Homo sapiens: one gene and its partner. The protein of the gene in region 2 interacts with the protein of the main gene of each other region in a pairwise test. Each region holds a gene or a part of one and is shown on either strand. Other genes may lie near its edges.

What was found. Proteins that work in one complex are often made in the same cells at the same time.
Region 1: the proteins of UNC50 (region 2) and KCNJ6 interact in binary tests that used the Homo sapiens proteins (3 or more experiments, as listed by UniProt).

Annotation. Positions count from the first base shown.
Region 1 is NC_000021.9:37,713,716-37,717,466, reverse strand, and holds part of KCNJ6 (G protein-activated inward rectifier potassium channel 2), read left to right. Parts: intron 1-231; exon of another isoform or gene 232-346; intron 347-1,265; exon of another isoform or gene 1,266-2,335; coding exon 2,336-3,256; intron 3,257-3,751. UniProt on the Homo sapiens protein: Inward rectifier potassium channels are characterized by a greater tendency to allow potassium to flow into the cell rather than out of it.
Region 2 is NC_000002.12:98,606,505-98,610,255, forward strand, and holds the start of UNC50 (protein unc-50 homolog), read left to right. Parts: upstream 1-2,084; 5' UTR 2,085-2,222; intron 2,223-3,138; exon of another isoform or gene 3,139-3,204; coding exon of another isoform or gene 3,205-3,255; coding exon 3,256-3,535; intron 3,536-3,751. Other genes in the region: COA5 (cytochrome c oxidase assembly factor 5), read right to left, coding at 1,803-1,901. UniProt on the Homo sapiens protein: Involved in the cell surface expression of neuronal nicotinic receptors. Binds RNA.

The DNA.
Region 1 (3,751 bases), on a different chromosome or scaffold from region 2:
GTGAGAAGGACATGGCCTTTGCCTCCATCCATACACCCACCCCATCTCCAGTGAGAAGGACATGGCCCCTGCCTCCCTCCACACACCCACCCTAACTCCAGTGAGAAGGACATGGCCTCTGCCTCCATCCATACACCCACCCCACCTCCAGCCCTCCCAACCTCAACAGCCCCCCATCAACACCTATCCTGGTATTTGTTCTAAGAAAGGGAAAAAAGCAAATTTTCTTACAAATGAATGACTTTTCTTATTTTCAATGAAGGACTACTGAGGGAGATCATCTAAAAGTCAAAGCTGTCAGACTAGAGAGTAGGCTCTGCAGAACAGATGCTGTCTCTTCCTGAGGCTGAAACACAAAAACAGATCCAGGAGATTGATTTTTAAGGCAACTGATCATCCATGAGCAAGGTTAACTCATAAGTTAGGTTGGGGGCACTCAAATCCCATCTCCGGCTATGTTCTTATTCAGATAAATGATGGTTTGTGGAGAGATGACATTTGTCCTTTAACCAAGATTAAAAACAGAGTGTCCATAAAGGAAACACATGGCAGAGTCAAACGACACAGAATTTAAGTCTGGAGGAAGAAATTTCTTACCAAACTTGTAGAAGACTTTAGTATTATTGGCCAAATAAATAATTTCATAAGTGGATTATATGCTTTTAAACAGCAGAAATCGGTTCCAAAATTCCCCTGCACTCAAGTTTTAGGAGAGCTTTCCTAATGCATTATTAACTAATGAGTGAACCAGTGCATTAATCATGAAAGCCATAAGAAACAACATAACTAGACATGGTGCCTCATGCTTGTAATCCCAGCATTTTGGGAGGCCAAGGTGTGAGGATGGCTTGAGACCAGGAGTTCAAGACCAGTCTGAGCAACATAGTGAGACCCCCGTCTCCATGAAAATAAAATAATTGGCCAGGCATAGTGACATAAGCCTGAGCCTCCTGTGCCTACTCAGGAGGCTGAGGTGGGAGGATCACTTGAACCCAGGAGATCAAGGCTGCAGAGAGCTATGATGGTGCCACTATACTCTAGCCTGGGTGGCAGAGCGAGACCCTATCTCTAAAAAAAAAAAAAAAAATTTAAACTTTTTTAAAAGAAAAAAAATAACCACAAGCTAAAATTACAGATGTTGAATGTTGAGGAGGCAGAAACCAAATCAAATATGTAAGCACACAGACAGAGAGAACATTTCCCCACCCTTTTTTACTTACCTTGGCATTGAATCAACCATTAAAGTACAATGCATGCATACTTACCGACAAAAACCAGAAATGTTTTTTAAACCCTGAAATTTGGCCAATAGTTCAAAGAGCTTGTTCAAGACTCTTGCCCTAAACATAAGGAAAGTGACAAGGGAACAATTTATTACAAAAAAATATTGATTGCAAGTCTGTTACATGCAGGCACAGATCACATACATGGTTTTGTTTAACCTTATAACAACACTGTGAGTTGGGTATCATGATCAATTTTGTAAATGAGGAAACTGAGGCTCACGAATTTGGATAGTGTGTTGTAAGTCAGTTCAGGCTGCCATAATAAAATATCACAGAATGGGTGGCTTAAACAATGGACATTTATTTTCTCATCGTTCTGGAGGCTGGAGTTCAAGATCAAGGTGTTGGCAGGGTTAGTTTCTGGGAGCCCTCTCTCCTTGGTTTGCAGATGGCCACCTTCTCCCTGTGTCTCATATGGCTTTTCCTCTGTTTGTGTGCACCCCTGGTGTCTCTCCCTCTTCGCATAAGGATACCAGTCCTATTAGATTGGAGCCCCAACCCTATGGCCTCATATAACCTTTAACTATCTCCTTAAAGGCCTTATCTCCCAATACTGTCACCTTAGGGGTTGGGGCTCAAGCCCCATATGGATTTGGTGAGGACACAATACAGTCCATAACAGATATCATGGCCAAGAGCCCACTAAGAGTTGCTAAGTAGTAGAGCTAAGCCTGTCTGAATCTAAAGAGGACTCCTTCATCAGAGCTTACTGCCTCTCCCATGCCACAGCATCTCAGAGTTGGGAGGCATCCCTCTGTGAGAGCTGACTCAGTAGAACCTGCTGGCAGGGACACAATTTTGCAGCAATAAGCTCCGTCCTGGTGGGCAGGATGGTGAAGTACTTACACAAACTAGATCGAAGAGCACAGAAGTCCAAGTCAACTAGAGGCCTATCCAGATGGTGTGGAATAAAAATGGCTTTGTCTACTTTGTTTATAGCTACACAAATGGTATTTGGTTTCACCAGCCCATACAAAGTGTGCCGTTCCATTGTCCTCAAAGAGCCAGCCTTTCATTCAGTGTTTCTTTTCTTTTCTCCAAACCACCAGCTAACGTCCTGGAGGGCGACTCCATGGATCAGGACGTCGAAAGCCCAGTGGCCATTCACCAGCCAAAGTTGCCTAAGCAGGCCAGGGATGACCTGCCAAGACACATCAGCCGAGATCGGACCAAAAGGAAAATCCAGAGGTACGTGAGGAAAGACGGAAAGTGCAATGTTCATCACGGCAACGTGAGGGAGACCTATCGCTACCTGACCGATATCTTCACCACATTAGTGGACCTGAAGTGGAGATTCAACCTATTGATTTTTGTCATGGTTTACACAGTGACCTGGCTCTTTTTTGGAATGATCTGGTGGTTGATCGCATACATACGGGGAGACATGGACCACATAGAGGACCCCTCCTGGACTCCTTGTGTTACCAACCTCAACGGGTTCGTCTCTGCTTTTTTATTCTCAATAGAGACAGAAACCACCATTGGTTATGGCTACCGGGTCATCACAGATAAATGCCCAGAGGGAATTATTCTTCTCTTAATCCAATCTGTGTTGGGGTCCATTGTCAATGCATTCATGGTGGGATGCATGTTTGTAAAAATCTCTCAACCCAAGAAGAGGGCAGAGACCCTGGTCTTTTCCACCCATGCAGTGATCTCCATGCGGGATGGGAAACTGTGCCTGATGTTCCGGGTAGGGGACCTTAGGAATTCCCACATTGTGGAGGCTTCCATCAGAGCCAAGTTGATCAAATCCAAACAGACCTCGGAGGGGGAGTTCATCCCGTTGAACCAGACGGATATCAACGTAGGGTATTACACGGGGGATGACCGTCTGTTTCTGGTGTCACCGCTGATCATTAGCCATGAAATTAACCAACAGAGTCCTTTCTGGGAGATCTCCAAAGCCCAGCTGCCCAAAGAGGAACTGGAAATTGTGGTCATCCTAGAAGGAATGGTGGAAGCCACAGGTAAGATGTGTTCTATCCTGGGATGGCTGTGGGATAGATGCTCATTTTAAACTGGACCTGATGTTCTTATCTATTACAAGATCTAGAATACTGAACCTCACTCAATATTGACAACATCCCCTTGCTTCATGACATAGTATGCCTACATGTCTCACCTGAAGTATATCCACCAAGAAGCCTAACCATTTAGTTTTTTAAAGCCCTTTGGAAAATAAATTAATGAACAATGAAAAATCACCATGTAATATATTTTAAGTCTCCAAATATTTACCTAAATTAAACTCTGATCTGTCTCTAAAGCATGTTTTAAATGGCCTTAAAACATTGCTAATTTAAATACTTGAGGTTATTTGTTACCAAGTTAGAAGGAGGAAGTTAAGCCTTTCAAAGGAAGCCTGACAAACTGCTTTAATAAAAATGCAATTTCACCCATTCTTTGAGAGTCATTTATAAGGCCTATAGCATTGGTTTTTCTTTTGTATGAAGTGAGTGCCT
Region 2 (3,751 bases):
CCCAACCATAATCTCTGCCTACAGCATTCTAGCCAAACAGCTCCGCTTTCTATACTGGAGAGACCATGTTCCATTCATCAGTATTTGTTCCCTGAACTGGAGCCTGGCGCTCCGTACATGTTTGCTGTATCAACCGCTGCAGAAAGCCAGCTTGGAATTCTCTGTGCTGCTGCTATTGTCCTCCACTTGGAGTTTCTTTCCTCAGTCCTACTCAGTGTACTTTCTTCCCTTGACTACTCATCAACATGGCCTTCCGATGCTGAACGTCTGGATAAAATCCAGTCTCCTCACTCTGACACACATACAGGCCTTCACACCTGGCTGCAACCTTCCCCTCAGGCCTTCTGTCGCATTCCCCTATGGCAGGACACTAGCTCCTCTGCGCCCTCCCACATCTCCCTGCCTCTGCACTTGCTGTTCTTTCAGATTTTCCCCACAACCACAACAGTTCCCACTCCTTTACTTGATAAACTACTACTCAACTTTTAAGACTCAGCTCAAATGTCATCTCAGAAGATTCCAAATTCTGAAGCAAAATCAGACGCTCTCCCTTGGGCTAACGCATTTTTCTCCTCAAGATCTAGTCATTAAACACATGTTTAATAAATGCTTACAGTCTTATGGCAGGAATTTAGACCCTTAGATGTCTATTTCTCCCATGACACCAAGCTTACATGGGTAGTGACTGTTACTGATTCATCTTCGTTATCACCAGTGTCAGGTACCATGCCTGCCACTTAAGAGGCATTTACCAGGAGCTGGCTGAACGGCAGCACCAGTGAGTAAGGGGCAGAAGGGACACAGCCCTGGACAGGGGAGCCTGAAAACAACGGTACTTCAGTTTCCTCATTTATATAAGGAAGTTGGGCGAGATAATCTCTTAAATTTATAATAACTCAAGTTTTACTAGACATTGGGAGGCGAGAATGGCTGACTGCTAAAATCAGTGAACCAAACAAATTGTGACTCGGTAGAAACACTGGTACAGTCTTACAGTGGATGTCCATTTGGGGGTAATCTTTTCTCTGAAATAACAGCAACTTTCTGAAACTACATCCCCCAATGCAAAGACAATTGCACACAATTGAATGCCCTCTCGTCGGGCCTCTGCAATTGGAAAAGGCACTTGTGCTTTACTTGAGCTCTAATCCAGAACTCAGGTCCACTGTGAACCTCACTACATGTTTCAGTGCATTCCAAGAGGGTGCTGAGGAGACCTGTGTCTGTAGCCGGGGAGTGAAGGAAGAGTGTAGGGGAAGCAAGATACGAAATCGTGAAAATATGGAGTTGCCTTATTTTTACAACTTAACATCCAAGAATGCAGAGAACTGTAACTCAGAAACAAATTCACATCAACACAAGTCAAACTGAGCACACATTGTCACAACTGAACAGGCAGGAGACACTACTGGCCAGGGCAGTGTACCAGGTTTACGCAACTCTCTGGAATCATTAATTCTACAGATTATCATTTCTAGGCAGGCAAGAAACCTGGCTTATTCTCCTTTATGTCTCCAAAGCCTAGTAGAGTGCTAGCATTCAATAAAGGCTTCGTGAACTGAAATGGGTTAACCTTTACAAAAACCCGACAGGGTGCGTTTATCGTTATCTCCGATTTAACCCCACAGGGAACTGGGGCTCCGACAGCTCAGTGGATCTGCGCACGTTCAGTGAGCCCGAGCTGTGACCTACGCCCGGGATGGTTAACTCCAACCGCCGCCGCGGGCGACCCGCTGCCCTCCGCCGAGCCAGGCCTGCCTGGGACAGGGGTCGTCACCACCGGGAGCGCCCGGCCGCGCTACCTGGACCACACAGTCCGACTGCAGCAGACACGCGCCCAGGTCCTCCTTCAGGCCCGCGCACGCGCCGCCCTGCGGCTTGTCCTCATAATACTTAGGCATGACGGCGCTTCCCCTCCGATGCGGACGCGACTTTCTCCCACCGCAACACTTGCAACCGGGTCGGGAGCGAGCGAGGCCCCAGTCTCAGGGGACCGGAAGCCAGCGGCAACAACTTCCGGCGGGCCGCGGCGGTAGGGCCGAGGACTACGGGGGCCGAGAGGTGGCGCGTCCGCGGCGGAAGTCGGTTCCCGTGACGCGGCGCGCCCCAAGGGCCGGCTCCGTTGAGGGAAGGGAAGCCCGCCCGGTGGCGGCTGGGGTCGGCTGCTGGGAGGAGGTGGTGGGCTGGTTCGGACGTGGGTCGAGGCTGTAGCAGGACTCCAGGTGAGGCCTGAGGACCACTCTGCCCTCCCGCGGCCCGGGCTCGCGCCGGGGGCCATTTAATCCCGACAGCTTGCGGCCTGACGTCGCTGCGGCCTGGCAGTGACCATGTCGGCGTCCGGCCCCTCGGCCGGCGATAGAGTTGCGGCTAAAATGAAAGGACGCCCAGTTACATTTGCATCGTAGATAAAGAAAGAGCATTTAGTATAAGCATGTCCGAAATGTTGCGTGGGATGTAGGCATACTAAAACCTTATTCGTGGCCTGTCTGAAATCCAAATGGAGCTGGGTATTCTGTGTTTTTATTTGCTAAATCTGGCAGCCGTACCCGCGGCCCCGGGCAGGGAGGGAGCAGCTGGGCTCGGCCAGACCCTGCCGGCGTCTGGGGGGCCTGCGAAGTGGAGGGGAGACGGGCAGCCGGGCAGTGGCCGGCGTTCCCCGGAGCTCGGACCGGTTGGATTGGACTCCGACGCTACCGCTCCCTCTGCTGAACTATTCCGGATGTAAAACACTAGGGATCGGAGTTTTTCTTGGTTTTTTAATCTCATTCTAGTGACCGAGAAGCTTGCTGGCAGTGCGCTGATGGATCTGTGTGAATAGGCCATTTATTTGACCTCTTCAGTAACACTGTTCTAACCGGCTGAAACTGCTTTCTTAGGCATTTTCTTAAAAGCTTGGTGGTTAAGAGCACGGAATTTCGAGTCAGATTTCCAATCTTGGCTCTATCACTATCCTCGGAGTCATGGGGCAGTCACATCATCCCTGTCTCTGTAATGGTAGCTGCCCCTGGATAAGTGTTATTAGGTGATTCAGAAGGGTGGGCTGTTGCCCTTGCCTGAGGTTGCAGTCTGCGGTTCCCAAGCCCCAAGACCCGCCTCAGAACTAACTGCATTTGCTTTTGACTCCTGGCCTTTCTCTAGGGTTGGGAAGAACATGGAAAGTGACCTCCCTGCCAAATAACTCAGAAGAGGAGTGTCGGTAGCCAAATGTTTCTTCAGAATACGTGTAAAAGAAATGTTTTTCTTCCATCTAGGAAGATGTTACCGAGTACTTCAGTGAATTCCTTAGTGCAGGGGAACGGAGTCTTGAATTCCAGGGATGCGGCAAGACACACAGCCGGAGCGAAACGCTACAAATATCTGAGAAGGCTTTTCCGCTTTCGGCAAATGGACTTTGAATTTGCTGCCTGGCAGATGCTCTACCTGTTCACATCCCCACAGAGAGTTTACAGAAATTTTCATTATCGAAAACAGACGAAGGACCAGTGGGCCAGAGATGACCCTGCTTTCTTGGTCCTGTTAAGTATCTGGCTCTGTGGTAAGTGTGTTTATCTGAGATAGAATTGAACGCTGAGTGTTTCTGATTAGATTTTTTGTTATAAATGTGTTGTGGGTCAGAATCTGGAAATATTGGAAACTATTTCTCCTTTTTACTGAAGCCTCAAAAAATCTCACAGGAAAGAAAGTTGTAGTCTTGGTTCTACAGGTCCCAAGCAGATGCCAGAGTAAACTGTTACCCTAGGACATTGAAAAG